Regions from separate parts of the Homo sapiens genome. Here regions 2, 3 and 4 are each linked to region 1. The links come from fine-mapping of genetic effects on gene expression. A gene starts in region 1. Each other region holds a variant in brackets. All regions are shown on one strand. Distances are from middle to middle. Region 1 holds the start of FEZ2 (fasciculation and elongation protein zeta 2). Region 2 overlaps CRIM1 (cysteine rich transmembrane BMP regulator 1). Region 3 overlaps FEZ2 (fasciculation and elongation protein zeta 2). Region 4 overlaps CRIM1 (cysteine rich transmembrane BMP regulator 1).

What was found.
Region 2: its variant is fine-mapped to the expression of FEZ2 in whole blood (TOPMed, PIP above 0.99). The same link has a PIP of 0.9 or more in monocytes.
Region 3: its variant is fine-mapped to the expression of FEZ2 in monocytes after LPS (Fairfax 2014, PIP 0.93). The same link has a PIP of 0.9 or more in whole blood.
Region 4: its variant is fine-mapped to the expression of FEZ2 in whole blood (INTERVAL, PIP 0.92).

Annotation. Positions count from the first base shown.
Region 1 is chr2:36,594,901-36,603,577 of GRCh38, reverse strand. FEZ2 (fasciculation and elongation protein zeta 2) reads left to right here and starts at 5,410. Exons shown (of 8, transcript NM_005102.3): 1 at 5,410-5,701. The coding sequence starts at 5,436. RefSeq lists enhancers at 2,562-3,487, 4,415-5,341, 5,342-6,269 and silencers at 5,342-5,561, 5,602-5,961.
Region 2 is chr2:36,548,424-36,554,987 of GRCh38, reverse strand. It overlaps CRIM1 (cysteine rich transmembrane BMP regulator 1), which reads right to left. Exons shown (of 17, transcript NM_016441.3): 17 at 3,853-6,463. The coding sequence ends at 6,287. FEZ2 (fasciculation and elongation protein zeta 2) reads left to right here. Exons shown (of 8, transcript NM_005102.3): 8 at 1,809-2,730. The coding sequence ends at 1,825. Among named protein-coding and RNA genes, the nearest start is that of FEZ2, 46 kb to the left of the region's middle. The variant A/C (reference allele first, on the strand shown) is at 2,987.
Region 3 is chr2:36,555,813-36,564,489 of GRCh38, reverse strand. It overlaps FEZ2 (fasciculation and elongation protein zeta 2), which reads left to right. Exons shown (of 8, transcript NM_005102.3): 6 at 5,977-6,052. Among named protein-coding and RNA genes, the nearest start is that of FEZ2, 38 kb to the left of the region's middle. RefSeq lists an enhancer at 2,213-3,412. The variant T/C (reference allele first, on the strand shown) is at 6,235.
Region 4 is chr2:36,539,005-36,547,681 of GRCh38, reverse strand. CRIM1 (cysteine rich transmembrane BMP regulator 1) reads right to left here. Exons shown (of 17, transcript NM_016441.3): 15 at 3,184-3,306; 16 at 511-698. Among named protein-coding and RNA genes, the nearest start is that of FEZ2, 55 kb to the left of the region's middle. The variant T/C (reference allele first, on the strand shown) is at 4,251.

The sequences.
Region 1 (8,677 bases):
GGTGAGGTGTGTTTTTAAAAGACCTTTTGTCCATTCTAATTTTCTTGAAGACAGAGGACCATAAGGGATATAAAGATTTCACTGAATACTAAGAGCCTGAAAAACTGCTTGGCTAATTTGACTAATAAAGGCTAGTCTGTTATCAGACTGTATAGAGGTGGGAAGGCTAAACTGAGGAATTATGTCTGACAGAAGGGAAGAAATGACTGTGGTGTCCTTCTCAGACCCTGTAGGAAAGGCCTCTACTTATTCAGTGAAAGTGTCTATTTAGACTAAGAGGTATTTTAGTTTCCTGACTCGGGACATGTTGAGTAAAGCTAATTTGCCAGTCCTGGGTCGGGGCAAATCCTCGAGCTTGATGTGTAGGGAAGAGAGGGGGCCTGAATAATCCCTGAGGAGTAGTAGAATAGCAGATGGAACACTGAGAAGTTATTTCCTTGAGGATAGATTTCCATGATGGAAAGGAAATGAGAGGTTCTGAGAGGCGGGGTAGTGGTTTGTACTATAGCATAGCCTGCCTTTGCTGGTGTGTGGCGATTAGGCCTGGTGGAACTGCCATCAATAAATCAAGTGTGATCGGGGTGAGGAACAGGAAAGAAGGAAATACGGGGAAATGGGGTGAATATCAGGTGGATCAGAGAGATACAGTCATGGGGGTCAGGTGTGGTATCAGGAATAATGTGGGAGGCCGGATTGAAGTCCGGGCCAGGAACAATGGTAATTGTGGGACTTAACAAAGAGTGAGTACAGCTGAAGGAGCCGGGGAGCAGAAAGTATATGCGTCAGGTGTGAGAAGAAAATAGATTTTGGAAGTTATGAGAAATGTAGAGAATGAGTTGAGCATAGTTTGTGATTTTTAGGGCCTCTAACAGTATTAAAGCAGCGGCAGCCACTGCATGCAGACATGAGGGCTAGGCTAAAACAGTAAGGTCAAGTTGTTTGGACAGAAAGGCTACCCGGTGTGGTCCTGGCTCTTGTGTAAGAATTCTGACCGCACTAACCATGCCTAGGAAGGAAAGGAGTTGTTCTTTAGTAAGGGATTGAGGTTTGGGAGATTAATCGGACACGATCAGCAGGGAGAGCACGTGTGTTTTTACGAGAATTATGCCGAGATAGGTAACAGATGAGGATGAAATTTGGGCTTGACTGAAGTAATGGGGGCTGTCTGTGAAGCCTTGCGGCAGTACAGCCCAGTCAATTTGCTGAGCCTAATGGGTGTCAGGGTCAGTCTAAGTGAAGGCAAAGAGAGGCTGGGATGAAGCGTGCAAAGGAATAGTAAAGAAAGCATGTTTGAGATCCAGAACAGAATAATGGGTAGTAGAGGGAGGTATTGAGGATAGGAGAGTATATGGGTTTGGCACCACGGGGTGGATAGGCAAAACAATTTGGTTGATAAGGTGCAGATTCTGAACTAACCTGTAAGCCTTGTCTCGTTTTAGGAGAGGTAAAATGGGGGAATGGTAAGGAGAGTTTATAGGTTTTAGAAGCCCATGCTGTAGCAGGCGAGTGGTAACAGGCTTTAATCCTTTTAAAGCATGCTGTGGGATGGGATATTGGCGTTGAGTGGGGTAAAGGTGATTAGATTTTAATGGGATGGTAATGGGCATGAGATCGGTTGCCAGGGAAGGAGTAGAGATGTCCCATACTTGTGGGTTAAGGTGGGGGGATATGAGAGGAAGACACGAAGGAGGCTTTGGGTTGGGGAGAAGGGCGGCAATGAGATGTGGCTGTAGTCCAGGAATAGTCAGGGAAGCAGATAATTTGGTTAAAATATCTCGGCCTAATAAGGGAACTGGGCAGGTGGGGATAACTAACAAAGAGTGCATAAAAGAGTGTTGTCCAAGTTGGCACGAGAGTTGGGGAGTTTTAAGAGGTTTAGAAGCCTGGCCGTCAATACCCACAACAGTTATGGAAGCAAGGGAAACAGGCCCTTGAAAAGAAGGTAATGTGGAGCAGGTAGCCTCCGTATTGATTAAGAAGGGACGGACTTAACCTCCACTGTGAGAGTTACCCGAAGCTTGGCATCCGTGATGGTCTAGGGGGCTTCCGAGGCGATTGGGCAGTGTCAGTCTTCAGCCGCTAAGCTGAGAAGATCTGGGAAGGAGTCAGAGAGCCTTGGGCCAGAGTTCCAGGGGCTCTGGAAGTGGCTACCAGGTGAGTTGAACAGTCCGATTTTTCAGTGGGGTCCCGCACAGATGGGACACGGCTTAGGAGGAATCCTGGGCTGTGGGCATTCCTTGGCCTGGTGGCCAGATTTCTGGCACTTGTAGTAAGCTCCTGGGGGAGGAGGTTCTGGAGGAACCCCTGGCCGCTGCGGTTCGGGCGTTTGGAAGTTCTTGTGTGCTGGAGATGTGGCTGGGGTTTGTCTCACAGTGGAGGCAAGGAATTGCAACTTTATTCTATTATCGTACACCTTGAAGGTGAGGTTAATTAAGTCCTGTTGTGGGGTTTGAGTGCCAGATTCTAATTTTTGGAGTTTTATTTAATGTTGGGAGCAGATTGGGTAATAAAATGTATATTGAGAATAAGACGGCCTTTTGACCTTTTAGGGTCTAGGGCTGTAAAGCGTCTCAGAGTTGCTGCCAAACGAGCCATGAACTGGGCTGGATTTTTATATTTGATGAAAAAGAGCCTAAATGCTATCTGATTTGGGATAAAGAAAAAGGAGCATTAACCTTGACTATGCCTTTAGCTCTAGCCATCTTTTTAAGAGTAAATTGCTGGGCAGGTGGGGAAGAGCTAGTCGCGGAACTAAACTGTAAGCCAGACCAGGTGTGAGGAGGGGAGGTGATAGAAGGATTATAGGGTGGAGGAGTTGGGGCTGAGGAAGAATTGGGACTTAGCTCGGCCTGGCGACGAGCAGCCTGGGGAGGAGGGGAAAGGTCAGATGGGTCTGTAGAAAAGGAAGACTGGAAAAACTCAGCGACGCTTGGGGTTGGGACTGAGGGGATAGGCAGGAGGGAAAGGAGGATCTGGGAGGAATCGCATTGGGAACAGAGGCTAGGGAGGGAGTGAAGTGTGAAAAATGCCTGGACGTAAGGCACCTCAGACCATTTGCCCATTTTTCTACAAAAATTATTTAGGTCTTGTAGGATGGAGAAATCGAAAGTGCCCTTTTCTGGCCATTTAGAGCCATTGTCAAGTTTGTATTGGGGCCAAGTGGTGTTGCAGAAGAAAATAATGCATTTAGGTTTTAGGTCAGGTGTGAGTTGAAGAGGTTTTAAGTTCTTGAGGACAGGCTAAGCGAGAAGGAGGAGGAATGGAGGATGGAAGGTTGCCCATAGTGAAGGAGGTAAACCCAGAGAAAAGAGAGCGTAGAGACATGGAGGGAAGGGGTTCGGGGTTGTTACCCTCCAGAAAAGCGGGAAGGGGGGTTGGGGCACGGAAATAAGGGATTGGGGCACAGAGATAAGAGATTGGGGTGTGGAAATAAGGGATTGGGGGTTCTTGCCACCTAGAAAAGCGGGACTTGCCGCTAAGGGTGAAGGAGAAGGGGTTGAGGGGTTCTTGCCCCTGCCCCAGAAAAATCACAGAAGGGGTAGAGACAAGGAGAGAAGGGGTTGGGGTACTCGCCCCTTCCTCAGAAAAGCGGGACTTGCCGCTAAGGGTGAAGGACCAAGGCAGGCGTCCCTGCGTGGTCTGACACCTTTGAAACGTGGGTGAATAATCAGAGGCGTCCCTGCAATGATTAAACACCAAGGGAAGGCTGCCTTCCCAGCCCGTGACCGGCGCCGGAGTTTTGGGTCCACGGATAAAACGTGTCTCCCTTGTCTCTACCAGAAAATGAAAGGAACTGAAATTAAGAGAAGGGAGAGATTGAAGTGCGGCGCCAAGATTGAAAGGAGAAAGAGGTTGAGGGATAGTGAGGGAAGCTGGAGAAGACAGTAAAAAGAGGCCGCTTACTGGATTTGAAATTGGTGAGATGTTTTTTGGGCTGGTCGGTCTGAGGACCTGAGGTCGTAGGTGGATCTTTCTCATGGAGCAAAGAGCAGGAGGACAGGGGGATTGATCTCCCAAGGGAGGTCCCCCGATCCGAGTCACGGCACCAAATTTCATGTGCGTCCGTGTGAAGAGACCACCAAACAGGCTTTGTGTGAGCAACACGGCTGTTTATTTCACCTGGATGCAGGCGGGCTGAGTCCGAAAAGAGAGTCAGCGAAGGGAGATGGATTATCATTAGTTCTTACAGGTTTTGGGTCAGGCGGTGAAGTTAAGAGCAATGTTTTGCGGGCAGGGGTGGATCTCACAAAGTACATTCTCAAGGGTGGGGAGAATTACAAAGAAACTTCTTAAGGGTGGGGGAGATTACAAAGTACATTGATCAGTTAGGGTGGGGCAGGAACAAATCACAATGGTGGAATGTCATCCTTAAGGCTATTTTTACTTCTTTTGTGGATCTTCAGTTACTTCAGGCCATCTGGGTGTATATGTGCAAGTCACGGGATGCGATGGCTTGGCTTGGGCTCAGAGGCCTGACAGCTAGATTTTGTATTTTTAGTAGAGACGGGGTTTTACCATGTTGGCCAGGTTGGTCTTGAACTCCTGACCTCAAGCGATCCGTCCACCTGGGCCTGCCAAAGTGCTGGGATTATAGATGTGAGCCACCTCGCCTGGCCTACTCCAATTTTTTTGTATTGTAGTAAAATAAACATAAAATTACTATCTTAACCATCTGTAAGTGTATAGATCAGTGGCATTCAGCACATTAACACTGTCGTGGAACCATCACCACCATCCATCTCCATAACTCTTTTCATCTTGCAAAACTGAACCGCCCAATCACACTTAGTTTTTATGAGGTCTAAACAATTTCTTGTTACTCTTATCACTCCGACATTGTAAGCCCTGTGTATGGGGCACCCATGTATTAGTTATAACATACACATAGGGTATCTACTATTAGGCATTGCTCTAAGTGCTTTGCAAATGTTAACTGGCATAATTATCTTTGTATGTTCTGCAGGATCTAGCCAGTGCTTTGCACGTGAGAGGTAAAATATTTGAGGAATGAACTTCGGTACCACCTAAACATTTCCCATTGACTCTGGCTGTTATTCTGGTTGGCAAGTTAGGAAAGGAGCAGGTTACCTTGGGGAAAACGACTTTCGGGGCGTAATCTGATATTAGGTCGTAAGTTTAAAGAAGTCCTTTATTTTAGCCACATTTAGGCCAAGTTGCTAATAAGGGAAGCTAACAGGGAAGTTATTCCTAAATGATAGAGAATATAGGAAGTGACTCAAGGCAGTTAAGGTCTTGGCTTTCTAGTAGCACCGCGTTCAACTCCAGGAAGACTCAGGCCACCGGAGACCCAGGGTTGGGACAGCCTGGGATCTGTCAGCACGGTAGCGGGCGGGGGCGGGGCTTCGGGCCGGGGCGGGGCCGGGCTGGGCGGGCTGGGCCGGCCTGGGCGGGGCGCGCGACTGCTCCGGGCGGCGATGGCGGCGGACGGGGACTGGCAGGATTTCTATGAGTTCCAGGAGCCGGCCCGGAGCCTCCTGGACCAGGAGAACTGTAACGCGAGCCCCGAGCCTGGGGCGGAGGCGGGGGCCGAGGCGGGTGGGGGCGCCGACGGTTTCCCGGCCCCGGCCTGCAGCTTGGAGGAGAAGCTGAGCCTGTGCTTCCGCCCCTCGGATCCGGGCGCCGAGCCCCCGAGGACGGCCGTGCGGCCCATCACGGAGCGCAGCCTCCTGCAGGGGGACGAGTGAGTGCGGGGCCCCGGCCGGGAGTGGGCGGGAGCCTCCCCTACCCCTCGCCCGACCGGCAGCCCTACGGCCGCAGCTCCTCCCTGCGCCCTCCTTCCGCCCGGACGCGGGAGTCCCCGCCCTCTCGCCTCCTTCCTCCGGCCGTCGGCCTCGGCTCGCCCAGCAATTTAAATCCCCTGCCCCCCGCCGCCACGAGCCCTGAAAACCTCCGCCTCGGTACCTCCCGCCCTCCTTCCTGCAAACCAAACCCTCGTTTGTATTAGAAGGGAATCGCCCATGCAGAGCCCATAGTTAGAGACGGCACCTCCTGGGGCACCTCCTGGGGCACGTGTGTCGCCATTCATTCACTCAAGTCGCATTTATTAAGCACCTGCTGAGTGCCAGGCGCTGCTTCGCACAGGGAACACCAAAACGACTGGGCACTGTCCCTCCCACTTAGGACACAACGTAGGATGGGAGATAGATTTGTAAACAAATACATGTATGGATGTAATTAGCGCTGCAATGGTTATATGTACCAAATGTGAGAGACTTAAAAGCGTGTGTCTTGGGGAGAGTAAGGAACGACTTTATAAAGAAATGTGCAAACGAGATCTGACTGATGAGTGGGAGTGTGCCTGGCAGGTGGAAAAAAGTCTAACGTTCTAGGTGGAGTATATTGCCTGTGCATAAGTACCAACGTGCGAGGCAGCATTTAGGGCACAGGAATCTGTGGGACCCACCCGGGAGCCCTGGTAGAGTGCGAGCCGCCACAGAGACGAAAACGAAGGGCCCTGCTTACTGATGGTAACGATCGCATGGTCTGGTGGGGAGACCAAGGCATACACAAGTAATATTAATAATTACAGAATCACCTAAGAGCAATGATAGGAGGTTCACGGGGTTTTATCACAGCTGGGAGAGGTGAGGCGCAGAGTTCCTGAGGGCACTTTTTAAACCACCTGAGCCGCAATTATAATTTGGTTAAGTAAGAGTTGTAATTAGGTACCATGGTTTTACCCCCAAAAGATGGTAAATAGGAATGGTGAGAGTAAAGGGACTTGAGCATGTTGTGTATATAGGGGGAGAGGAGCCTCCGGAGAGGCTGAAGGTAAAATGAGTGGAATAAGATTGGGCGCGGTGGCTCACACCTGTGATCCCAGCACTTTGAGAGGCTGTGGTGGGAGGATGGCTTGCTTCCAGCAGTTCGAGACCAGACTGGGCAATATCGTGAAATCTGGTCTTTACAAAAAAATTAAAAAAAAATTAGTGAAGTCCGGTGGCGCATGCCCGTGGTCCCACGGACCCAGCTGCCCGGAGGCTGAGATGGCAGGATTGCTTGAGTCCTGGAGGCGAAGGTTGCAGTGAGCCATCATCGCACAACTGCACTCCAGCCTGGGTGTCAGAGCGAGACTTTGTCTCAAAAATGAGGACATGGGAAGGAATGGATTTTCAGAGCATTGATGGGATGGAGAGACTCTTAGAGGTTAGGGAAGAATTTTTGAGAGACAGGACAGGAGTCACGGGCACGGAAAGGAGTTTCCAGCCTGATTGTCTCCTTTCCTTTGTGAAACAAACAGATTTATCAGGAATAAGGTAGGAAGCTTGTAAAGACAGCCTTGGGAGTGGGGCCTGTAAACATGGCTGAGCAGTGGTGCAGGCCCACCTGTGTTTGGAGACCATCTCCTTTTATTGGTTCCTCAGTACAGTGTTCTGCCCAGGTGTAGAGAAGGGAAACACTTATAATTGGATTTTATACACACATGCATGCCGTCAGTAGCAAAAGATGACATTTTTGGAAGCCTGTTCCCAAAGAGAAGATAATTTTATGTATATGTAGATTTAGATACTCTGAATCACTAAACCCAGGACACATTCTGGATTTAAAAATTAGTGTAGATGTATTATGTATTTGGGTTTTTCAAGAGTAGCTGACTTAAATCAATTAGAGGATTGTACGTAGATCGTTAAGAGTTTTTGTTTCACTTAGACCGTCAGGAGAGTAGGTTATTTTAGCCTTTGCTTAAAAATATTTTGTCGCTCTTGTTAATGGTATTTAGTAGATGATATGTTGGTGGTAATGCATGTCTCTTGACTTGGGAATGCATATGAAATCTCTTTTTTTCCGGGAGTTGGGAGCTGGTCATCACTGGCATTGTCCCTTTTATATTGCAAAAACATACTCATCATTGCTTGATAGTCTGTTCCAGTTCCCTTTTCACTAGATATAATTGATAATTGTTTTACTCAGATATTGCTGTGCTTTAGGTCAAGGGGTCCCCAACCCCTGGTCCACAGACCGGTACTGGAACTGGGCCACACTACAGGAGGTGAGTGGCTGAGTGAGTGAGCAAAGCCTCATCTGTATTTACAGCTCCTCCCCATTGCTTGCATTACCACCTGAGCCACCTCCTGTCAGATCAGCCACGGCATTAGATTCTCATAGGAGCGTGAACCCTATTGTGAACTGCACAAGTGAGGGTTCTAGTTTGCAGACACCTTATGAGAATCTAATGCTTGATGATCTGTCACTGTTTCCCCTCTCCCCCAGATAGGACCATCTAGTTGCAGGAAAACAAGCTCAGGGCTCCCATTGATTCTACGTTATGGTGAGTTGTAAAATTATTTCATGATATATGACAGTGTAATAATAGAAATAAAGTACACCGTAAATGTAATGTGCTTGAATCACCCCAAAGCCCTCCCCGACCCTTGGCACTTCATTTAACTTCTCTGAGCCTCAGCTTTTGTTTTGGTTAAATATGGATTGTATTTACGTACTGAGGTTTTACTTATAAGAGTATTCTGCAGGATTCGATGTTGGCAGGACTTTGACCTCCTTGCAAAAGAGCTGTCCTGACCGTTGTTTACGACTGGTTGTAATACTTGGTGATAAAGATGAAGGCAGTTCATATGTCTTGACTGCAGAATTCTAGAAATCTTTCACTAGAGTTGCCTCTGTGTCCTTCCAACTACCATTGTTTTGACCTTGGTGG
Region 2 (6,564 bases), 48 kb after region 1:
TTTTAAAGTAGCAGGTATTCAGGGACCAGATTTTGAAAGCATCACAAAATGCATCTTTGTAGTGTTTGATCAAATTTTGAGAGCAATCCTCTTCTAGTAACAGTCTTCTTCTCTGGGTTCTCTCTCTTCTCCATTAAAGTTAGCTGAGCACAAGGAAGATGAAGATTTCTGAGACATTAGAAACCTCTGATGGTCTTTTCTTAAACCATAGTGTCATGAAAGGGGAACCTCAGTAGTATACACAGGGTGCTCAAAGTGAATCACACATTTCACTTGTAAGAGTCTTGATGCGGTGAGAGTAAGAAGCATGAGCTAGACACTAGTGGGTTGACACTGGAGTAGAACAGACTGAGTTGACATCATTTTAAAAAATAAGCTTTTTTTCTGATGGAGGACTTTTTCTCCCTATAAAATTCTGAAAAATTTTTTTTTTAATACCTGACATCTTTGTTTGCTTTTGTGTTGTGCTAGCATTGGTATGAAAGCTGGATTGTTCTGAGGTTCGTTCTTCTAGATGTGAAACAGGAATGAGACGAACATAAAGAACATGTCTTAAATTTTAATTATATCGGGTTCCTAGGCCTCTATGAGGGCCAGAGATAGAATGAGCTTCTGAAGCATTCTCTAGCTATTTTAGCATTTAACTGCATGGAAGGATGTTATGACCCAAAGAACAGAGTCCTCTGGGGAAAAATGATTTTTAATTCTTTACTCTGAAAACCTAGGACTATAATTGTGAACCTACCTATACCGCATGCCTTAGGGAAGCAGCACCCATCTAATTCTGCTCCTCATGCTCGGGCCGCTGGCTCCTGTCTGTAAGCCCAGTTCTATCTATACTGTACCTGCTTCTGATGAGCTGTCTGTGTGCATGTGTTGTGGTTTTGTCTTGGCTTTGTATTGTGAGGACTGGGTGGAAAAGCAGCAAGGATTTAGACTACAGTGGAGACTGTAGTCAGAGAAAATGAAGACGGGAGTGCAATGTGGAGATGTATTTACCCAAATGTGTGTGGGAAGGTGGGGAAGTCGGGTCATTGAAAATGCTCTTTTCCACCCATCCTGAAAGTTCACAGCTGGTTAACTGTTCCTCTTCCTTGGGGACCAATAATACGACACTTTGCCCGGGAGGGGGATATTGCTCAAGGGGAGAATACTCCTTCCCCTTTTTTGGGTGGTTTGTTGTTGTTTTAACACAGATGAGAGTGTGGCTTGGCTGCCTAAATACACCACTTAGTTTTAATGCAAATGTCAGAAGTGAAAGAAGGTAGAAAAGTGGTCTCATTTGGCCTGAGAAAAGGGAGTAGGGTGGGCACTGTATGGGCTAATTGAGCTTCTCTTTCTCGCACCTGCCTAATGACCCCACTGCAGCCTGCCGCCACTGCTGCCTTGACAGTAGTACCCAAGGCTGATTCTGAAGTAATGTACGCGTGGCTGCTGCCGTGCTGCTAGTTAGGAATAAAAATGTGTGCAGAAACTTGCACCCTTCTTTGACTTCCCTAGGGATCCTGTTTGTTGTGTCACAAGCCTCATGGTATAGGGCGAATGTTAGGGGCTTCTATCTCCAAGTGGCACCCTAAGAGACATGGCCTTTTGGTATCTCATTTCTGGGAAATTCTAATGTGTGTTGAGAGAACTCATCCTTGTTGGGTATAGCCTCTTAAAACCTTTAAAAAATTGCTACATAGATCTTTGCATTAACATTTAGTTCTCATTACTTAATGGTTTTTAAATGTACATGTAAAATGTATGTTTTGTGTAAATGTATACAAAATATACATTTGTAGCTAAAAGTTCTCTTTTTCTTCTAGTTCTGTGTCCTACATAGAGCAGCAACTTTATCTGCGGTGGGCTCCAAGCTAGATTTCCGACAGCATTATTCTGAGAGCTGGCTACCATTACCCTTCTTGCTATTGGAAACTCAGCACATTTGAACTTGGGTTTGATTCAGTATTAACAGATCTTGACTACACTAATTCTTTATATTATAGAACCAACGGAAATATGGGCACTATTTTGAATTCTAGAGATGGTTTTTGTTAAATCTACTAATAAACTGTTCTCTTAGTAGATTAAGAGAGAGTAATATTAATTGTGCATGTGCAGTTGTATTTCTCATTAACTGACAGTATGCCCATTTGTTTTTATGGCTTTCTTATCTAAACTGCACTGATGAACTAGATTAAAGCCTTGGGAGATTTATACTATAAATTCAGTGATGGCAAGAACCAACACTGTTTTTTTGTGAGAATTGTCAGTGTAACTATTACCTACCAGTATTGTTCAGAGAGATTGAAACAGAATAAACGGGCTGTTCTTGAAGAAGCAAAACCAGAATATGCATTACTTTGGTTTAATACTTAGTGCTAACATTGAAACTGTTGGTGGTGATGGATTTTGTAGCTTGCTGCTTGTTTCACCACTGGTCAAATTTTAACCATTAAATTGCCATTCACTTTTAGAATCTTGTATTTAAGTTTTGATTTTCAAATGTTCTGCTTCATGTGTCTGTGAAGAATTGTACTTTAAGTGTGTGTCCTCTGAGGTGCTTGAGAAAGTGTACACTGCAGAACTGCCCATTCTCATTACTGTGTCCTATTTTATTCATGCCTGTGTGTTTTTCTTAAGTATGAATTCTAGATACAGCTACTTATGGATTCATCAATATCATGAGCACTTTTGCTGGTTCCAGTCAAATCAATGGCATTTAATAAATTTTTTAAGAAGTAAAAATACATGTTTGAGAGCCTTATATTTGGGAGTTTTGTGTTGTATTTTTTTTTTCCTTACAGTGCTAGATTCTTTCCCTTAATTCCACACAGAACCCATCGCTACAATATGTGAGCAGATGAAACCCTGATTAGTCCCAGAATGCTACGAAGGGGAAGAGGAGGACGTTTATTAGAGTATGCTGAGCTGCTGTGGAATGACAGAAGTAAGTCCTGCTCTTTTTCTGGGGCTGTGAGACATTTCAAAAACAGCCATGCAG[A/C]CCCCTCCCATAGACGACATGAATGAATTAAGAGTCTATATAGGACCTGCTACAGGCGGCTTTCACAATTCCACTTAAACACCTGTGAGCAAAACAAACAGGGCTAACATATTCCTCACTCCACTCAGCAACTGAGACACCATGACTGCAAAGGCAGGGGCGCGGTTTGAAGTTTAATGCCTGCTTGGCATTTCAGCCATCATCTCTAGGGGTATGAGAAACTCGAGATGGTTTCCTTGTTTTATTAATGTTCTTATTTGGAACTTACTGGCCCTTTCCCCAGATACATGTACTTACACAGTAATATTAATAATTTAAATTAATTTGAATTTGTAAAAATGACGCCTTGTACTGAAGAAATGTAGCTTTAAAGGGTATATGATATAGTAGAAAGTCCTTAGGGGGATATATTTTTTTAAAGGAGATTCAACATTGGTCTGTTTATAGCTCATTCTTAAATTGATGCTTCTAAAATGTATGAAAATATACCTATTTATTTTTTCCTGTCAGCTCAAAAAGTCTCTTTGCAGTTAGGCTTCCCCTGATCGTGCTCGGTAAAGTCTTTCTTCTTCAGCATCGAACCACTGTAGGATTTCCCACCACAGTCCTCCTGTGCGTAGCAAGTTAATTTTGATACCAGCTATGAGCACGTTTCTGACAGCAGGTAGGTTTCTTGTCTCCCTAAAAACAGCATCGCTATTCTCTGTACTCTGGGAGACACTTTTCTTTTTGCAAGGATACCTTGGGAAAGACCCGCCTAATGACAAAAGCACGGGACTTCTTGTTACACCAGGGGTTCATTGGACTGATAACCTTAAAAGTCTTTCGGATCTCAGAGATGGAATCTTTTTGCAAGTTACACTGTGTGATTTCAACTCAAAATGTTTATTTCCTGCCAAGAATCAAGTTGCAGATAATTCTCTTACAGCTTTTTTGAAGAAAACAAAAACAAACTGTAGAACTATGATGCACTCCAAGTGCCATATATCTATTTTATTCTTCAGGAAATTATATTTTTCTTTTACAAGAGCACAACAGGAACCAAAGTAAAAGAGTAATAGATACAGCACTCAGGATAAATCATATCTTTAAAATAATAATAAAAAAATTTACACCTTGTCCTATATCCTGTTAGTATTTTCATAATATGGCCATGATTGAAAAAACAAAAAGCAAGCATCTACAATTTTTTTTGATAAAGACTTTTTATGCCAGGAATGGATTAATTACCAACAAAATTTATACTAATCAGGCTGATGTCAATCTATTTTTGTAATGTATCATTAACAAATTTATTTTGGAAAAGATAAAAATATTGCCCCTTGATAATAAATCTTTTTTTCCTTTGATGCAAACAGCTAGAACACCTTTTTCTTTTTCTTTTTGATATTCTAAGACAAAAAAATGGTTAATCTTCAGATTAATAAATTAGGTCATTATAATAATAAATTAATTTTTTTTAAAGTTCAGCAACCTCTGTCCAAGTATTTACAACAATACTTGAAAGTTCCTTTACAAAACAGAACACATTTTCTTTTCACGTTAAGCATACTGGGTATCTGTGTCTTTCACAACAAGCATTTTTAAAAGAAAACTCAATGCACAAATGGGTTAATTAGTATAAAAGTGCTAAGGGCTGTTTGAAAAGTTACCACTATAGTATACAGTCAGTTATATTTGAGGCATACTACAACAAACTTCCAGCTTATTGTGGACAATATTCCAGTAGTTGTTTCAAACCATTGTTTGAAAAAAAAAAAAAAAAAATCCAGGAGCTGATTAGTGATGCAGATAAGAACTGCCATCAATGTCTCTGGCCAGTGAGCAAATTGAAAACCAACTGAAAGCAAATCCAAATGAGGAAGATTTTAATAAAGGAATACCCTTCTCCATAGCAGGTGCAATGCTGACTGCTCAAGGCGTGCGTGCGCGCGCACACACACACACACACACACACACATACATACTCTCACACACACATCTTTCCAATTAAACTGCAGGTAGAATGAGATTTTGTGTTATTCAAAAAATTTGTAAGTGATCAAAAGCACTGCTATGGAATGCCTGTTTATCTGCCTTTGTTCTGGTTAAAATCTCATAAAAATACATTCAACAGGAAAACATAAATTGTATGTGTATAAATATATATGTATATATATATATTATATACACATGCACACAAATACTTTTGTTTTTTGAAGCATAAGATAGTTACATAAATACTCCTATAATTGCTAAAGTTTAAAGAGGCATCATTTTTTTTGAGCTTCAACAAAGGTGCTTGAATAATATACAATTAAAATGAAGTAGTTTCTATTTTGTAGAATCAGTATATAATAAGGAAAAAGAATCCCCAAACAGTCTTTTTAAAAAAAGTTTCTTCTTAAGCTAGAGCTTCAACAAAAACTATGAACAACCAACAATATAACAGAACAAAGCAACAACAAACAGTGAAATATAGCCCCTGGAAATGCCTGGTGTTCGTCACCCTCTCCCTCCTCTTCCTGTCACGTTGTAAAAAAAAAAAAGCTCCAGTGCTCACATCAAGAAATGACTTAGATCTTGTTCATGTGCTGACTCTGCTAGGAACTGGCTGATTGATTGGCTTGGAAGAAAATAAAAGCAGCAAAAAGTGTAACTGTATATATCCTTAATAACCCGCTTTAGAGAAATGCCGCTATCGCATTTCTCTGGCTTCCTCACTGCCTACTGCAGTTGTGACTGTATAGAAAAGAAACTTGTGGCTTTAGACCTGGGATGGCTGTCAAAGGGTTCTGATGTGCTCGTCTGGTAGTTCTAAGGTGGTTATGGCAGCTGGGTCGCAAGGCCTTTTTTGTTTCCTGCTCATTCAGGCCTGAGCTTTGCAGCAACCAGTGCAGTCTTCAGAGCAATAGGAAAAAAATAACCTCTGGGCCACTGAACTGCTTTTATGTTACCAGGTTTCTCCCCGAGCCAAGCTGACCAATTTTTCTTCCCAACACCACCCTCCCACCCATTTCCCCATCCAAACTCACTGTCCCCACCCCAAATATCTCTACAGCTATCTTACAGGCAAATATATCTTAGCAACTTTAAAAACTTTGGTTCTAAGAAAACACTTGGTCAGTTATCTTGAGGAAAAGTGGGAATGCTTGTTCTGCACATTGCTGTAGACAGAGCCCATCCCAGTAAGGTCTTAGCGCTGTACATCAAGTCACAATCCAATACAATCCACTAAGCAAGTGCACAAATTCTAGTTTACTTTTTAGAGCAGATTTAGTCGTCTTCCGTCTTTTGAAACCTCATCCTAGTTGCCTTTCTTCACACTGTTTGGTAGAAATTGTCTGCCTGTAGATGGTTCTGTTTTTGCATGCTGTAGAAGCCACTGAATCTTGCATCTGGTTCTGCAATTCTTAGCATTCTCTGGGAACTGTCCACCTGGACTCTGGTTCCTTTCTTGCAGTCCACAGATACTAGCTGATTATTTAAGGAAGAAGGCTATTTAATGAGAGGAGGAATAAAACCACAAAAAATTAGTTGCTTTACATTATCTCAAATGAACAGAAATTTAGTACCTAACTCAGGTGAGATAACAGTTT
Region 3 (8,677 bases), 39 kb after region 1:
GGGTGGGAGGGGCCTTGGCTGATGTGTTCACTCTGAATCTCTAATACCTGGAATGGTATCTGGCTCAGGATGTTTTTTGAAAGAAAGAGGAAATGAATGAACGAGGAGAATAAAATGCTGAAGGAGGAACCGGTTTTTAAATTTTTTTGTTTGTGTTTTGGTGGGGAAGAGGACATTGAATTCAGTTTTGGATATGAGTTTTAGAAATATTGATATTAAATATAGACAGGAACATAGGCTTGTCAATAGGCCATTAAACATACAATAGGTACAGATGTCCAATTGGCCATTAAACATGCAGAGTGAAGCTCAGGGAAATTACAGTAAAGATAGCTAACATGTACTGAGCTTTGCCATGTGCCAGTCTCTGTTCTTAGCACTTTACTGATCTTAGTAAAGTGGAGCTATCAATTTATGGAAGCAGAAGATGAAGCTATTGATTGGTAATACCCAGAGGGGGTGCATGATAATTAAATAGGGACAGAATCCAGAGGCACAGCAGCATCTGAGAGGTGAGTCAAGAAAGAGGCACAAGATCCTAGGGAACACTGGCATTTAAGGGATGAGTGAAGAAAGTGGCCCCTCTTAGAAGAAGCAACTAGAGAGCAGGAGGGTTGGGGTGAGGGAAATCTGGGAGAGTGTGGTGTCTCTGAATCCAAGGAAGCGGTTCAGGGAGGAGGGATTCCTGGATGTCTCAGAGATCTGAAAAGTGGCCGTGGTCTTCCAGATCAAATAAATGATGTTGGGAAGAGCTGTTTCAGGAAAACCTTGGGAAAGGAAAGAGGTTGAGGGTTTGAGAATTTCGGGATGCTGTCAGGAAGGAGCTAGTAGAGAGGGAGAGTTTGGAAATGCAGTGGAGGGAGAATATTGATGCTGCCTGACTTCTGGGGAGGTAGGAGTTGATTGCAACTGAAGCGTTTGATAGGAGCACGTTCTCAGACGTAGATTTTAGTTTTTTTTTTTTTTCTTTTTTTTCCTGTAGAACCTTCTGATTTCCTTGTTCTGTAATTTTCCAATGGATCAAGAGGCGATTGAACTGTACATGCTGCACATTGCTTCCCTGGTTCATTGCCAGTGAAAGAGCTGGGGACAGTAGGGTCTTGTCAGCTGCAGCCACTGACTCAGCAGCCATCAGCAGCAAGGACAGAGGTTCTGCTGCATTCCTTACTTTACCTTCTTTCACTGGCATCAGCTGTTAGTTTTGTTTTTCCAGGTTACCTTGGCTTCCCATGGGGTTGCATTTTCACTAATTTCCCCTAAGCCTAAAATTCTGGTGGCACAAAAGCCATCTTTCACAAGTAGTCAGGCTGTCAGTAGTTGAGATGGCTCAGTAATGTCTGCAACCACACATTTAATAAAGAAAACCTAAATTACATCTGCATGTTACGAAATTGAAACTGCATCAACTTTTGTTTTTTCTAGTGACAGGAATTGGCTTTCTGATTGCGAAAACAAAGCTAGTGTTTTTGGAATGTGCTTTCCAAATAGAAAGTGTGTCTTAGTTTCCTGATAGGTGGATTCTGAAACTTTTTATCTAGCTTTAGATTTTATGAATTTGTATCTAGCTTAAACATGCTCATAGATAATGGAGCCAGGTAATATAGACTAAGTACTTAAAAACAAGTACTCTTCTCTTTGTCACATTTGAAAGAAAATATATTTTATGAAAATAATTTAAAAAATAAACTGACTTGGTTATTTGAGAATAGTTTCTCATAATTGTTATTATATACTCTGAAGCCTAAGATGTTATCTCATTTGATAATCTGCTTAAAAAATATGAATGAATTATGATAGCATTGGAAAAATTTACAGAAATAGTTTTCTGTAGGTTTTTGTTTTATAACTAGCCTCCTCCATCAAAGCTAATAGTTATGCTTTCAGTGAAGTGAAGAGTAGTCAGCAAAGTATCTTGACTAGACATTTGATTCTTGCTGAAGCAAAACTGGCTTGCAAATCTGGGAAAGGCTAGGTAGGGAAGTTGGATGGTTTAGGAGGAGAGGCATATTTGTACAGTCTCCTGTAAGGTAGTAAAATTTGGAACTCAGATTTTCAGTAACTCCATAGAGTTACATGACTGATACAGAAGCACATAGCTCCCTCAGTGATTCAGCCTGTTGGCATTTCTTAGCTTTTTGTTATCAAGACTTCTTTACGCTCTTAAAATTTATCAAGGACCCCAAGAAACTTAATATTAGCCATGTTACAAATTAAAAGTGATAAAATTAAAAATATAAATTCATGAAAAATACCAAAAATAAATTCATTATAAAGAGCATATATTTATGAAAAATAATATTTTACAAAATCATGAAAAAATATCATTGCTGTGCATTTTTGTCAATCTCATTAACATCTGGCTTGATTAAAGACAGCTAGATTCACAAATGTGCTTCTGCATTCAGTCTGTCATTTGGAATATTTCACTGTAAGTCATGAGAGAATGAGAGTAAAAAAGACAACTTATATTTTAGTAGTATTAAGAAAACATTTTTGAACTCCTGAACTCCTGAGAGGATTTCAGGGACCTCTTGGCAGGAGTTGGGTGGGAGGGGGTCCCTGGACTACACTTTGAGAACCACTGGATGAAACTATATGTATTTCTTGATGACCATTCCCTTGGTTTCCTTTCTTCTGCCCCTTGGGGCCTGGTAAAATATTCTTTATGTTGACTCCTCAAATGTGTTTACTGATTTAAATTTCCTCTATAAAATTCCAGGGGAAGGAACCATCAAGTGAGTCAGGCCTTCACTTCCTTTTCACGAAGCCTTTCCCCTTAATTAGTCATGCTGTAAGAATCCATCTCACTCCTTTGACTCAGCCGCCATAGAGGTGCCACCAGACGCTTTTTACTATGCTTGATGACATTGTAGACTGGTTACAAATCAAGATAAGTTGTTTAGGAAAAAAATACTCCCTTTTCAGTACAAAGAATTCTAGGAAGTCTTGGAGGTTGCTGGGAGAAAGAAAGTAGAATTGTTTCCTAGAAACGGAGTGGAAAAGTCTTTGGAGAAGTTTTTGGGGGCCTGGCTGGCACATGGGATCCACTCTGCTCTCCAGGAAGCGTATGCCATCTTCTAGTTCGCATTTCTGCACCAAGGCAGTGGCAGGTGGCCCGAAGAGTGAGTGGGAAGCAATAATCAGCTCTCCAAGTAACAGCATTTTCATTTGCTAAATGTTATGTTAATGTTCTCCAAACTGATGGTAGAATTATACAAACTTAGGCTGAAAATACGCATACTGTTCATCTTAAGTTTTCAGACTTCTGATAAAATGTAGGTAAATAATATCAAAAAGTATCTTAAAAATTACACAGTAAATTTTGTATAGAACAAATATGTGTACAACTTACAACATTTACATTGGAACAATTAGCTACATCAGAAAAATGCCTGCATGAATATAGTAGCATAAAAACAGTTGCTTTTGCATTTAACTTGCAAAGAAATGGAAGCAACAGCATTTTAAAAAGAGCATGGGTTTATGTGCTTTATCTGGATGAGTAGTGGCATTTTCTAACTGCTTGCCTCTTGGGCACATAAGTCATCATGGTACATTCTTACTAATAGACTTTGAACTTCTTTCTCTGTCCTTTTCTTCTGGGCCGTATATTGCCGCCTTTAGCGCTTCAGCATGGAAGGGATCTCAAATGTCATTCAGAATGGCCTCCGCCACACCTTTGGAAATTCAGGTGGAGAGAAACAGGTGCTCGGTTATCCTTATTTTCCTCATTCTCTGCTTTTTCATTTTCTGTGTAAGTGAAGATCCTGAAAGCTGGTAGTTTACTAATTTACTAAGACCATTGCTTAACGAGAGAAATAAAAGTTTATTATAAAAGTTCATTATATTTATAGTCTTGATAATGAACAGAATTTCCCTTTGAGGAAAAAGCATTTTTCAAATTCGACAATAGATTAAATGCATTCTTAAGACGTGTTTTATAGCTCCATTTTTCACTCTTAGTTTTAAACAAATATTAACATTTTAACATAATGTATTGCATGTGTAGAAAATCTGCTTGTGAAAATAACTAAACTAAAATATGTGACTCTAATTCTAAAAGTCTAAGTCGCAAGATGTCATTTTTGGGGGAAGAAGGCCAGATGTCGGTATGTTTGAGACTAGAGTTCTAGGTCAAAAATATGTATAGAGTGTATCTTACCTCCTTTAAATGAAATTCATGTGTTTTTAAGGTGTATTGCATAGTCAGCCAACTCAGTTGTCTGCCAAACGAGGCATGCGACATTATTTATACAAAATTATACACAGATATGAATATATAATCAAGTATCTAGCAATTTGCTTTTTATTCACATTTTTGTATAATGATTGAAGGAATATCATGAACATGGGAAACATTCACATTAATGGGTATGCTTAAAATTACCTTTCACTATATGAAATTTTCACCTTGAAAAAGAAAAGTCTTTAAGTTAGCTCTTCTGTGCAGATTAAGAAGGTGTACAAAATGTAGCTTGTAGGAAGTTTAGCAAAAGAACGCCTAGATCAAATGCCTGGAGTTTTTACTGCAGGTAGTTAAGTGTTTCTCCGGAAGGGAGATCATTCCTATTAAAGAGGGAAGCCTCACACTGACATTTGCAGCTCATCAATGAGCTCCATGAAGGGATGTTTGAGTTTTTGTTTTCATTCCGTTGCCTCTCACCTCTCTCAACCTCAAAAGAAGACAAGGAATCTTCCAGACTGTCAGTGGAGCAGGGAGGCCTGAAGATGCAGCCAGGTAGCCAGAGAGCGGGCCAGGGTGCAGCCGCCTGGTGCCTCTCCAGGTTGCCTCACACATGCAGAGTGAAGCCAGGAGGACATCATTTCTGGCCTTTTGTTGTTGTTGTTCTTTACAAAGAAACATTCGATTATACAATTGGGCATCACCTGCAAGAAGTCTACGTCAAAAAGACGGTGGGACACTTAACGTGTCTCAGAGATTGAACTATGCAGTTTTACCACTTTTCTGGACTTAGGGATCCAGTTACTGTAAAGCAGCTTTCTTTATCCTGTTTTTCAGTTATGGGCAGGATAAGATCACTCAGTGAGGATTAGCCACAGAGCTGAGATTTAGGGCACGAGGTTAAATAATGGGTGGAGCTAAGAGATTCCAGGTAAAAACCACTGGCTTTCTATATGAGCATATGTGAAATGCACGGAACTATTTTTTTGGTGGGATGGTAAGAACAGGAAAATCTGGACAATCATTTATGGATTATGCTTTCATGGGATTAGTTAAAAGACATGGCGCTGTTACTTGTGAGCCTTTACAAGTAGTGAACTAGGAAGTTTATCTCAATTTCAGACATTAATTTTCATTATTCATTTCCCCTTAGGCCATTCTCTACTTTAACTTTTCTCCTTTAATGCCTAAAAACGTTTACAATGACTTACCCAATAATTTAAAATAATAGTAACGCATTTCTAAAACGATTTAAGTGTGTCTTTGTTAGCTTCTGAAAGAAGCTAGTGTGTGTTTTTCAAAGTTGTCATGTTATATATGTGGACCATTTGTTCAACCAGAATAAAAATGGTCTGAAACAGAATTATTTTGCTGTTGGAAATTACTTTATTGTGCAGAACTGTTAAAACTATGTTTTTAGTTTAAATTGCTATTTTTAAAATGTGTTGAAAAATATGCAAGTAGAATGTGAGATAATACTTCACTTTAAAAATGAACAAATTGAGTAAACCATCCTCAGACTTAGTCCTATGAAATTTTCAATAACTGAAATGCAAAAAGGTGGTTGTTTCTGTTGACATTAGGTTTGTATGAAGCAAATAGAGGTGGGCAAAAAAAAATGAGCTCCATCTGAGATAGTAAGATAACTTTATTCCCATACAATACCTGTGTTTTCATTACCAAAGTAGCTTGTGTTTTATATTATCAGATAGACCTTCTAGTAACAGTATCAAATTTTTTGCAGATAAGGTAATTCCGATTTAAGTGACACTTTTTTTTTTTAAACTTGGCAGTATTTGACTACAGTCATTCCTTATGAGAAAAAAAACGGACCACCGTCTGTTGAAGATCTTCAAATATTAACAAAAAGTGAGCAAAGACAAAATGAAACTATTACCTGATTTCCTTTTGCTGATTGGTAAACACCTGACTTTAGTTGGCTGATTTTGTTGTTAGTGTTTTGTCAGTTTAGGATGTAAATGATGCATATAATTGTTTATTTTTATAAGAATGAAGCCAAAAATGGCTGTGACATTAAATACAACAGTAAC[T/C]CTAGTGTTGATTTGTACTTTTTCTGTTTTTCTTACCTTGTGAAATATTTATGAGCTAAAATTTTGGGAAAAAGCATAACCTAAATCTCCATCATCTCTTACATGTTTAAGAACATATCCATTTATCATAAATAAAATTCCTTATGGATCTTATATATCTATGATTGTCAGTAACTGAATAGGAAAGATTTACGGTAAACACTTTTTATTTCTTATGAATGTAGAACCCGAGGTAGTAGTTATAGGTAGAACATAAATTGACAGTGATGTTTTAAGAACATGCATTCATTCAGCAAATATTTAGTGAAGGCCTACTCTGTACCAGGCCATGATCTGGGCACTTGGGATACTTTAGTGAACAAAGCAGACAAAGATAATGCACCTTCAAGGGGCTTGCCTTAAAAAAAAAATTGTTAGATTTAAATATACATGATATTGAGTATCTCTTATGATGGCCGCAAATGAGCCTTGAATTCTGGTTCTATCCCTGTTATTTTCAGGGATATCCTTGGAAGTTACTTACTCTCTTTTGCTTACATTGAAAAACTAGGATAAAAAATATTTGTTCTATTTACCTCACAGTAAATAGATTAATATATGTATGATTTTGGCTAAGTTACTATCAATTAGCCGTTAAAATGGAGGGATTGAATTTGCTGATCTGTTAGGTCTTTGTTATGGTAAATATTTATGATACTTGCTAATTAGGGGGGAACCAAATGAAAGAGCATCACATGGATGAGTATGGATGATGATACTTATTTTGGAAATTTAAGAGGAATGGGCAAGGAAAACCTAAGAGTAGAAGCAAGTGTCTTATTTCTTAGCTCCCTGCCTGCTAACTTGGAGCTTTTATTCTTTCCTTTGGTGAATAATTCTTTAAAAATTTTATATTTAAATATGGATAAATCAAGTGATGCCAGCCAGTCTGAAATAAAAAATCAAGAGATTAACTGGGTAGCTAGCCCTCTTATTTTCAGGAAGAACTTAAGTTATATGTGTCCAAGATCACACAGGGGGATGGTTAGTTACAGAGCTGGATCTCTTAATTCCCAGGCAATTATACTTTTAATGATGCTGGTTTTTGGTATGTGATTTTATTTAGAAGTTAGAAAAAATTTTAAACATGATTGGAAGCAGAAATACTGAACATGGTAGCCCTCTAAAGAAGGGAACATAAATATTGCTCATAAGCCAGGAATTACTGGCAGGCCTCAGCTTCTCAGATCAAGAACAAATACTTCATTGGTCAAACTAAAGTCATCATAATTCCAGCATCGAGATGTCTTTATAGGTTGTCACAGTTTGGAATCTCTGGACATATTTGGGTCCAAAGCTCCTTTTCTTTCCAAAAGAAGAGCCCTGTGGAGACAGTCACAGTGTTTATGGATATATAGTCTTCCTGATAAAAGCTATTAGGGGATTTTGGGTGCAATAATAATAGTTAATAAAAATTTAAATAATTTGAGTAGTGTTAGTTACAGTTAATACATAGCATGTACTATGTGCCAGGCACTATGATATGACCTTTATATCTGAATTAGTAGCTTAGTCCTCATAACAAACCTTTGAGATTAAATCTAATTATTATTCTCATTTCACAGATGAAGAGCTTGGTGCAAAAGTGGTTAAGTAGCTTGCTCAGCGTCACACAATTAGGAAGTGGCAGAGCCAGGGTTTAAACCCAGGAAGGCTGATTTGACAGTTACACTATTTTGCCTTGTCGTATTGGTGGGGAAAAACAGTGAAATATTTTTACCAGGATGCTTTGGAGAAAATTTGAGTTGGCAATCTCTGTTAAAGTATAATATTTGTGAGTTTATCTCAACCTGAATGGTCTAGCTTAAAAAAGAAAAACGTTATACTAGGTGGCTGCTTTTTCTATTTTAGTTTTTACTTAGAAGATAAATTTGTCAAATTAGAATGAGGCTAATTCTCCCAGGTTTCTCCCTAGTGCAGAGGAGGCAACAGCCAGGCAGATGCCCGATGCTGCTTCATGGAAGTCTGTTCTTCATTTGGGTCTTTTCTTTGAAAGTTTCTAAGGAGTCTGACAGGATACGCTTGTTGGAGGGTATAGCTGTCCATTTCTTTAAGAGTTTCTCTAGTTTGCTTGATCTGCAGCACTGAGGTTTTCTTGCTGCACAGAGTTCATTGAGGTGCACATTATAGTAACCCACTTTCCGGTATTATTACAGAGCGAAGGCTCCTTGTAAATAACCCAGTTCCTCTTTTTTTGTCTCCACTGTTTGGAAATTTTAAATCAGGGAAGCAACTCTCAGGTAAGTGGGATATTCTTACCGAAAATAAATTCTTGTGGACTTACTCCACTAAAATAAATTATTGGGCCTTTATTGTTGTATCCCCTTATCAGGAAAATCACCTATAATTTGTATGAGTCAGTTATATCCTATAATTAAGGAAGATTAAGGCCACAATGATTGAA
Region 4 (8,677 bases), 56 kb after region 1:
CTCTTCATCTTTTGCGACCTTTCCACTTGGTGCTTGCCTTTGGTGCACTGACCTGTTCCTTTTGCCTTTTGTATACCCTCATGATCTTCCAGCCCTCTCCTGAGTATTATCTCCATCCCTTTGGGACTTTTTTTCTCTCCCAATTCTAAGTTGACTGATGACTAAGAAATGCCAGGTGATCACGTTTTAATGTCTAATATAAACAATGATTTAGGAATAAATCCAGGAGTATTTGTTCATTTGAAAACTTCAGAGTACATCGAGAAAACTGGATCCATGTAAGGTTAGGCTTCATTAACCAATGGATAATGGATAATTCACCTTGTGATCAGTCCAGCCCTGGGCAAGTACTATGTATTTGATTCATACTATAGCCTGGTATGGATTTGAGGCTATGAAGAGCAAAGTAAAAACTTCACTGGTTAAGACACAAGGTTTCAAGCAATTTCAATATGAGTGTAAGTTTTCCTAGATTCATCATTCAAGAGACTAACTTTTGCAAGACAGTACCTTAGTTGGTGTTCGATACCAGCAAAGCAGTGGTATCCACTGTTTCTTCTGATTGATGAATAGGAATGCTATTATAATAGAGAGGCATATAATTATGGGAACCACAACTGAGGCAATGGAGTCCAGTGAAGAATCTTCACTTGGGTGCAGCCTGTTATCTCTGTAATCTACCTGGAGGTGACCCATATCTAGGAGAAAAAAAATTATAAGCATTTATTACCTAAACCAGAATTGTTAAGGATTATTTTAATGACATTGCAAATAGAGATCAGCAACTTGGTTTTATTGCTTCCCAGTTTTTTGAGGCTAAAAATGTGATTAAAATCTAATGTTGATCCAAAGAGCTCTTAGTAGAGAGCAGAGCGCTTAGGGATGAATGTTAAAAAAAAAAAAAAAAAAAAAAAAAAATCAGAGTGAGAATCTTAATAATTGGGTAAGATGATGCCGGCTCTAGCTAATCAAGGAAATAAGAAGGTGCTTAGGTAGATTTTGAAAAAGTGAATTAGACCATGAAAATATTTTGATTACTGTTAACATACATGGTCTTCTCAGATTTCGAAGGAGAAACATTAGCTGATTTATTGGCAAACAGGAGACTAGAACAAAGTATGTTCTTTTACTATTAATTAATTAGTGTTAATAGCTAAGACTAATTAGATTAAAACTAATCAATCAGGAAGTTGGTCTTTTGGTTGATACTCTGGTTCACTGAACTCTAAGCAATATTGTCTTACTTTTCATAAACTTGTTGAAAATCTTGCTTAGGCCTATTAGATCATTTTTCTGCCTTAATGAATTATATCGCATAGGTGACTACATTTAGTTTTGCACTTATGAATGATGACCTTTATGTTCTTTTAAAATATCTCTCTTACAATGAATGTTGCAGACAAAAATAAGGTTAAACACATACCAATAGGGGGCACTCCCTAAAGTTTCCTTATTTTTATATTCTGTTTTGTTTCAAATAAATCATTGTAGTCAGGTTTTCTAAATGCATTAAAAATCAATTTAGTTAAAGACACATGACACACAGTATCAAAAGGAGTTACTCCTAAATTGTTCTGGAAATTCAGCTCATGAAGTGACAGAGCTTTGTGGTATGTAACACTGTGGTTTAAAACTCAGATTTTAAATGATATGCTTCTGTGTGTGTTCTGGAGGGGTGGTGGGAGCAGGGAGGAATGGGAGGTAGAAAACATTCCTAATCATTTTAGCCAGTGCAGATGGCAATAAAACTTTATAGAAACATATTTTCCAGCATCAAGAAAAATGTCAAAGAGTAACATTTTATTGATGAATTCAGATTTTAAATATACAATGAATAAAAGAATGAATTTTACTTTCCCATATTCCAAATCAAATAGAAAGCAGTTTTAGGAATATGTGTCATACAAGAAGAATAAGATATAAATTAAGGAAGGTCTTGGTGAAAGAAAAATGAAGCTGCAAGTGAGGTCTGTTTACAAAATTCAGTCTTCCAGTTCTGTTTCTGTGCTAAAACCAAGCCATCAAAGTTAGCTTTGAGCTTTGTAGCAGCCAAAGCCAAAAACGGAAACAACTATCAGTCTTTAATACGATTCACAATGTCTTTTAGGTTAAAACAAATCAGTTGCCTAGGAGAAGCATACATTTTCTTGCTATTGATGCATGAGAAAATTTCTCTTTAGGGGCTTTATAACATAGATACTATGCAATGCACAGGTCTTCAGTCATAAGAATAGTCGTACTTACAGTATGTTGAAGTCTAGCCTCTAGAACAGGGTCTGGCATACAGCAGGCACTAATATTTACTGACTGAATGAATGTAAGCATAATGCTAAAGCACACTCAGAACAATTATACAGAGAGCCAAAAACACTAGGTCCAGGAATTTGACTTTCTGGTCATCTGGTTTGATCCAAGCATAACGTTTAGAATATCTAGAGTAACAGACAATTAATCTCTCTCAAGCAATGAATATTGCTTCTTCCAAAAGAAATATAAGTTATATAGCAATGATTTGGAAAATATGGTTGGAGGACACAGGAGGCAGTACTGAGTCACGGCTAAGAGCAAGTTTATACTACTGATCAAGAAGAGGTCTACTTTTATAGAAAAGGAAATAGTGACAGCTATTGGGAGACAAAATAACATCTTTATTACGCACAGACTGAAAGGATAGAGCAAGATAAAAAGGCATGGAGTAAACCTGGTGACTAGAAAAATCAACATAGGTGATAAGTTTAGCTCACATGAAGTGAAAACTGCCCAGAAGTAGAGGGTAACCTAATGTACAAATGCTCAGTGCGGAATCTACAAGAGACAGTGACTAATTCATGATTACTCTCCTTACAAAGTTTATATATACATACGTTTGAGAGATGGCTTAGAAGTTCCAGATACCAGGCTCTTATGACTAGGAACATATTTATTTCCATTTATTTCCGTCATCACAAAGTCTCTGAGCACAGAGGGCCAGGAAGGAGGCATTTAATCCAGTTACCTGCTGACTTATTTTATCAATGTGTGGTGTAAATATGTTTCAGCCAAGCAGGTCTGCCCGGGAATAGTTATTTGAATTTACTTCAGCAAGTCATTTTAAAAGTTACTCATAGGAAATTTTAAAAATTAGAAAACACCTAAGTAGACCACATAGAAAACTAGCAGATCTCAGCTGCCTTCAATGCTTACCTCTAGGGAGATGGACGATATCATTTTCACTAGGCGTGGGCCACAGGGGAACCTCCAGGTCAACCTCTCCTCGATGGTTTGTCTTCTCAATGGGTATATTGGTTGGTTCTGGGACATACATTTCTAAAAGAAGGGAACATTTTTCCTAAGAGATGATGAAGCTGCTGTATTGTTGGCTTTTGTATTCTCAATCCAAATGGTGCACTCAATTCAAGACCACATTTCCTGGGACATGAAAGATGCAGTTTCTGCCATTTACATCATTCATCACTCATGCTAGAGAATCACGAGCTTTGCAGTGAGGAGAAACATGTCTTATAACATTTAAAAGATGAAAGAATTCTCTACTCCACCAGGGTCAAAAACTGCTTTTTCACGTCAAATGGTGTTGGTTTTATAATTTTATGGAAACTGAAGGGGACTAGCTGAAGTTATTTATTACTTTCCAGCAGCTAATAAATGTTGGTGTTTAATAGCTGCTGCTCTTTAATATGGGGGTATTGAATAACTTACATAAAATATGTTAGCAAAACTTGAAAAAGTTAAAGCACTGTCCACTTCTTATGGACTTCTTGGCCATTTCCTCTCCTTTCTCTTCCCCTAAATGGGAATGGACTGTAGGTAGACCTCATGAGTATAAGTCTCAGATGTCCATTATGTTACCACTGGAACCATTTAGATTAGAAGCTGATCTTCAGTAAATATATTTACATTATCCAGTTTGATCAGATAGGTATTATACTACAACATAAAACAAACAGAAGAATATTATTTATCTCAAATATCAGGTCTTTTTAAAAAAAAAAAAAATCAGAACTTTTCTCAGCTCCTACAAATATTTCTTTGTATTTATACTTCATCCAGCTAACGACAACTAGCCCCACATTTTAAAGCAATTAATTCTTCAGAACCTGTTTTCAAAATGTGACAATAAAAGTTTGTGTCATGCACGTATTTCCTTTCGGGCAGATCCTGCCATATTATTCACTGATTTTTTTATAAAGCAATTACTCAACACGTAGGATCCTAAATACTCACCATAGCCTAATTTAGACCAACATAAAATA[T/C]ACAGTATAAGTATATAAATTAAAATAGGATTAATAATCCCCTCTGCTCAGAGTGATTGTTTTCTGTCTCAAAGTTAACAGGCTTTTGAGAAGTAAACCTTAAGATGACTTTGAGAGAAGAGGAAAGTGATAGAGAAGAGAGTACTTGCTAAGCTTCCCCCATGAGTTAACTGGGTACCCAGCCAGGGAAAGAAACCCAGAGAGGTTAAGTTAAATCGCTCAAAATCATGCATCTAGTAAGTGGTAGAGCTGGGATTCAAATGCAGTTCTGTGATTCCAAAGCCCAAGTTATCTTGTTGCCTCCAAGAATAGTCTTCTGCTTTCTTAGTTATATTATAAAACCTTTAAACATAAAAAGAACTGGGAACAATTATAGTTTCTACAGGTTCAGTGCATCCCTGCAAACTCGAGAATTAAAAATAGAAGTTACTGAAAACATTACCATTTGCAGGTGCAGGGGCCTGAGCACAAACCAGTGACTCTCAAATTTTTAAAAATCATATCAGAATTACCCAAAGAGCTTAGAAAATGTGCTGACTCTCACAGGTCCTGATTCGGTAGGTCTGGACTAGGTGATTCCGGGAGGTGTGTGCAGGGGGATGGTATTTAATGCACCCACTGAAAAACTCTCATGTGTGGTATGAATTTCCTGGGTGAATATGGGCAGAAAAGCCATGTCGCCATTTACTTGACACCTTTCAGTGCCACACACACCCTTCTGCCCCTCCCCTGCCTAGTCCAGGGCTTCACACTGAGCCTTCCTATGACAATAGGGGCCGAACTGCCACTGGTTTCTGAGGCCTCAGTGTAAAGGGCAAATGCGACACCAATTCCAACAAACCTGTAAATGTCAATGGCTAAGTAGTAAAAGTTTCTGCAGAGGCCCCAGAGCTGGGATTGATTCAGTTCCACCTCAGGTTTTTTCCTGAGTGAGAGGGAGAGACGTAACTTTGGAATTCTTTTGCCTTGACCCTGCATATGGGTAGATTTCCGGTGAAACTCCACCAAGCTGAGGCATGACAGTGAGTCCTCTTCCCACAGGGGCTCTACTTGGAAACAGCAGGGAAAGTTAGAAGGATCTGTCTATGGTGAAGGAGGATGTCTTCTTCAGTGATTAATTGTATTACCATTTGTTCAACAAATATTTCCTGAGCACTTCCTACATGGCAGGCACTGGTTTTGGGCATACAGTTTTGAGTGAGACCAATCCTGGCCCCCATGGGTCTCTCCTGATGAGTGATGCCTGACAGCCACTTCTTACTTCCAGCAGCTCATAACCTGTCCTGTGTATTAGCTCACTCCACCACTCAGTTCAGCTCTGATTAAAATCCACCCACACCTCCTTCTTTATCACAGAACACGCACAGCTCCAGTTCACAGTCCTCAAGTCCAAGGGAAGAGAGTCATTTCCCTTTAATTTGAACATAAAAGGGAAGCTGCCTCTGAGCAGTTTTGCCAAAAAGAACAATTCTTTCAGTTAAAAAACTGCTTGTTGAAACAAAAAGAAGTGGGAATGCTATTTGTTTCCACGCCTAGACCCAGGCCGCCTTCTATGGCCAAAGACCGCCTTCAACCCAAGACTCTAAAATATAACCCTTCTGGTATTTACTAGAAGAGCCCTTTACAGCTGTTGGCATTACAGATGGACAGTGCCAGGGAGATTTACACAAAGCTACATCCAGCCCTACCACGAAGATCACGGGCACACGGTCACAATCGCTCCTGTGCTCATACTTGACCTGCGCTTTGGAGGAACTCAAGATAATTTACTGGGGATATATTTTACTTTCAGAGGCATCTGGTCATCTCTAAGAGTTGCCTTCCTTAAAATGTCCTCTTCTGGAATACGGGGCGAGGTGCTTGGTGCTTACAAGCTGAGGTCAGCATTTTTTTGGGAGATGGAACCTGAGGTCAATTTAGGAGCAGGGGTCTCATCCTCTGCTAACCAGCTCCATGACTTCGGATAACCCTCTTACCTTTCCTGAGCCTCAGTTTCTTCTGTAAAGAGACAGGTGCTAATCACCTAACAGCTCATAGGTTCTGTACTCATATCCAAAGATGGTAAAGGTGAAACTGTTTTGTAAAGAAAGAGGATATTCAGAATGTTAGTTGCTATGTCTAAAGGAAGAAGCAAGGTTCTTGTTTGCTGGACAGACCGGGAAGTGCTCCCACACCATCATTTCTGAGATGGTATAATCCTCACAGCATTTCTGGGAGGTGGCATGTGCTATCCAGATGAGAAATGGAAGCGTGAAACTTTGGTGGTGAGTCTTGACTAAGATCACACAATGAACCGATGCAAGAATGGGACAGGAATACAGCCTTCCTGGCAGCCCATACTGGATCAAACAGAAGGTGGCAAAAGCTCAACTGATTGCAGTATTTGCTTAAAGATAGAAAAATGTTTCATCAGGAATACAGCAGATGCAGAAAGGAGAGTTAACAGAAATTAAATTTCAACCCAATAGTAAATCTTAACTGAGAAGTCACTGGAGAAATCTCTAATGATGAACAAGGATGTTAGCAATATCTGTACTCTCTCTTATCAAACTCACAAACCAAGGAGAATGAATTGACCTCTATTTCTACCACCACTACCTGAATTTGGGTCCTTGTTATCACACCGAGGACATTTGCAGTGCCTGTTACAGCTGTCCTGGCCTCTGGTCTCTCTCTGCTTTAGTCCTTCCTGCACACCACCCTGTTACACAAAGGTTACCCCAAAACATCTTTGTGAACATGTCATTCAGCTGCTCAAAAATAAGCCTCCCCATTCCCTATAAAGAACAAAATCTACACTCTTCATTTGATAATTAAGGCCTGAAAAATCCTTGCCAAAGCTACTGTTTCTGTCCTTACCTACTGCTACTAAAACTCACTGCTCCAGAGGCACTGGCCTTGACCTTAGAGGCACCGGCCTTGACTTTTCCCATCTCAGGTCTTGGTTGGGTTATCCTCTTCACTCCAATGAAGACAGCACATCTGTCCTTTAAAATCTAGCTCATGTCCTTTCTCTGTGAAACCCTCCAAGGACCCTCAACTTCACAGTCTGTCTTATTCATGAACTTGGCACTTATGGTCTGCATGAGAGTTGCATAACCATAACTCGCAATGGGAGAGGTGAATTGAATTCACCTCTCCCATTCTTTCTTGAAATCACTCTGATTAGACTTTGCCTCCACCACTGTACTTCTGTGAAGTTCATTACAGCAGTGCTAAGTGCACAAGTCTGTTCCCACATCGCATCTTACGTGGCTAACAGTGGCGCTTGATTGAGCAGTTTACTCTTTCCTACCAGAAACCCTTTCTCCACCTGGTTTCCATGTCACTGACCCTCTTGGCTTCTTCCTTTATTCCTGGTGCTCCTTCTCTATTTCTTTTGCTAGGCCCTCTGCACCTGCTCAGTCTCCAAAAGTCAGAAGGTCTCAGGGCTCGGTCCTGCGCTCTCTTTTCTTTTCTATTTATTCTTACCCTTCGGTGCTCTCATCTAGTCTCAAGGCTTAAAAACCTTGAGACTAGAAACCACCTATGGCTAAACTTTCAAATTTGTAGATCTACTTTCAGTTTCTTTCCTGAAGCCCAGATTAGATATTTGTCTATTCATTAGCTCCACTTTGATGCTGAATGACTATTTCAAGCTAAAAATGCCCCAAACCAAAATGTCGTAGTCATCCTTGGCTCCTCTTCCACTCACTCCCCGCATACATTGAAATCCTACTGATGCGACTCATATGGCATAGTCAGAACCTGCCCACTTCTCCCCACCTCCACGGCTACCACCCTGTCCAAGTCACTGTCATCTCTCGCCCGGATTCTTAAAAAAGTCTCCAAGTTGGTCTCTCTGCTTTCACTATTGACCTCCATGCCCCACAGTCTATGTTCAACCCAGCACCAGAGAAATCCCATTCAAAGGTAAGTCAGATCCTGTCGCTCCCTGCTCCAAACCTTCCAAGGTTTCATCTCACTCAATACAATCTTGCACTCATCTGCGAGACCCTTTGTGTCTGGCCGTGGCTGCCTCTCTGCCCCACCTCTTACCTCCTCCATGCTCACTGAGTTACCTCCACACAGCTCCTCCTGAACATGCACCTTGAACACTGCTCTACCTTGAACACGCACAGCACGTTCCCACTCCAGGGCCTTGGCGCTGGCTATACCCAGAGGTTCTGCCTGTTCCCCATGAGAACTGCAATTCTGGGTCTCTTCATTAAATCTCATCTTGTTGGTAAGGTGCTCCCTGACCATTCTACATAATACAAAACAACCTGCCTGCCCCACTTCTCCCCAGCCTCTCTGTCTTGCTATGCCTTTCTCCAGAGCCGGATCCCCATCTTGGTGGCTACCTAGTTACTGTTTACCTGTTAGCTGCCTGGCTTCTCCCTACTACAACGTAAGCTCCGTGTGCACTGCTATTTGGTTCACTGCTG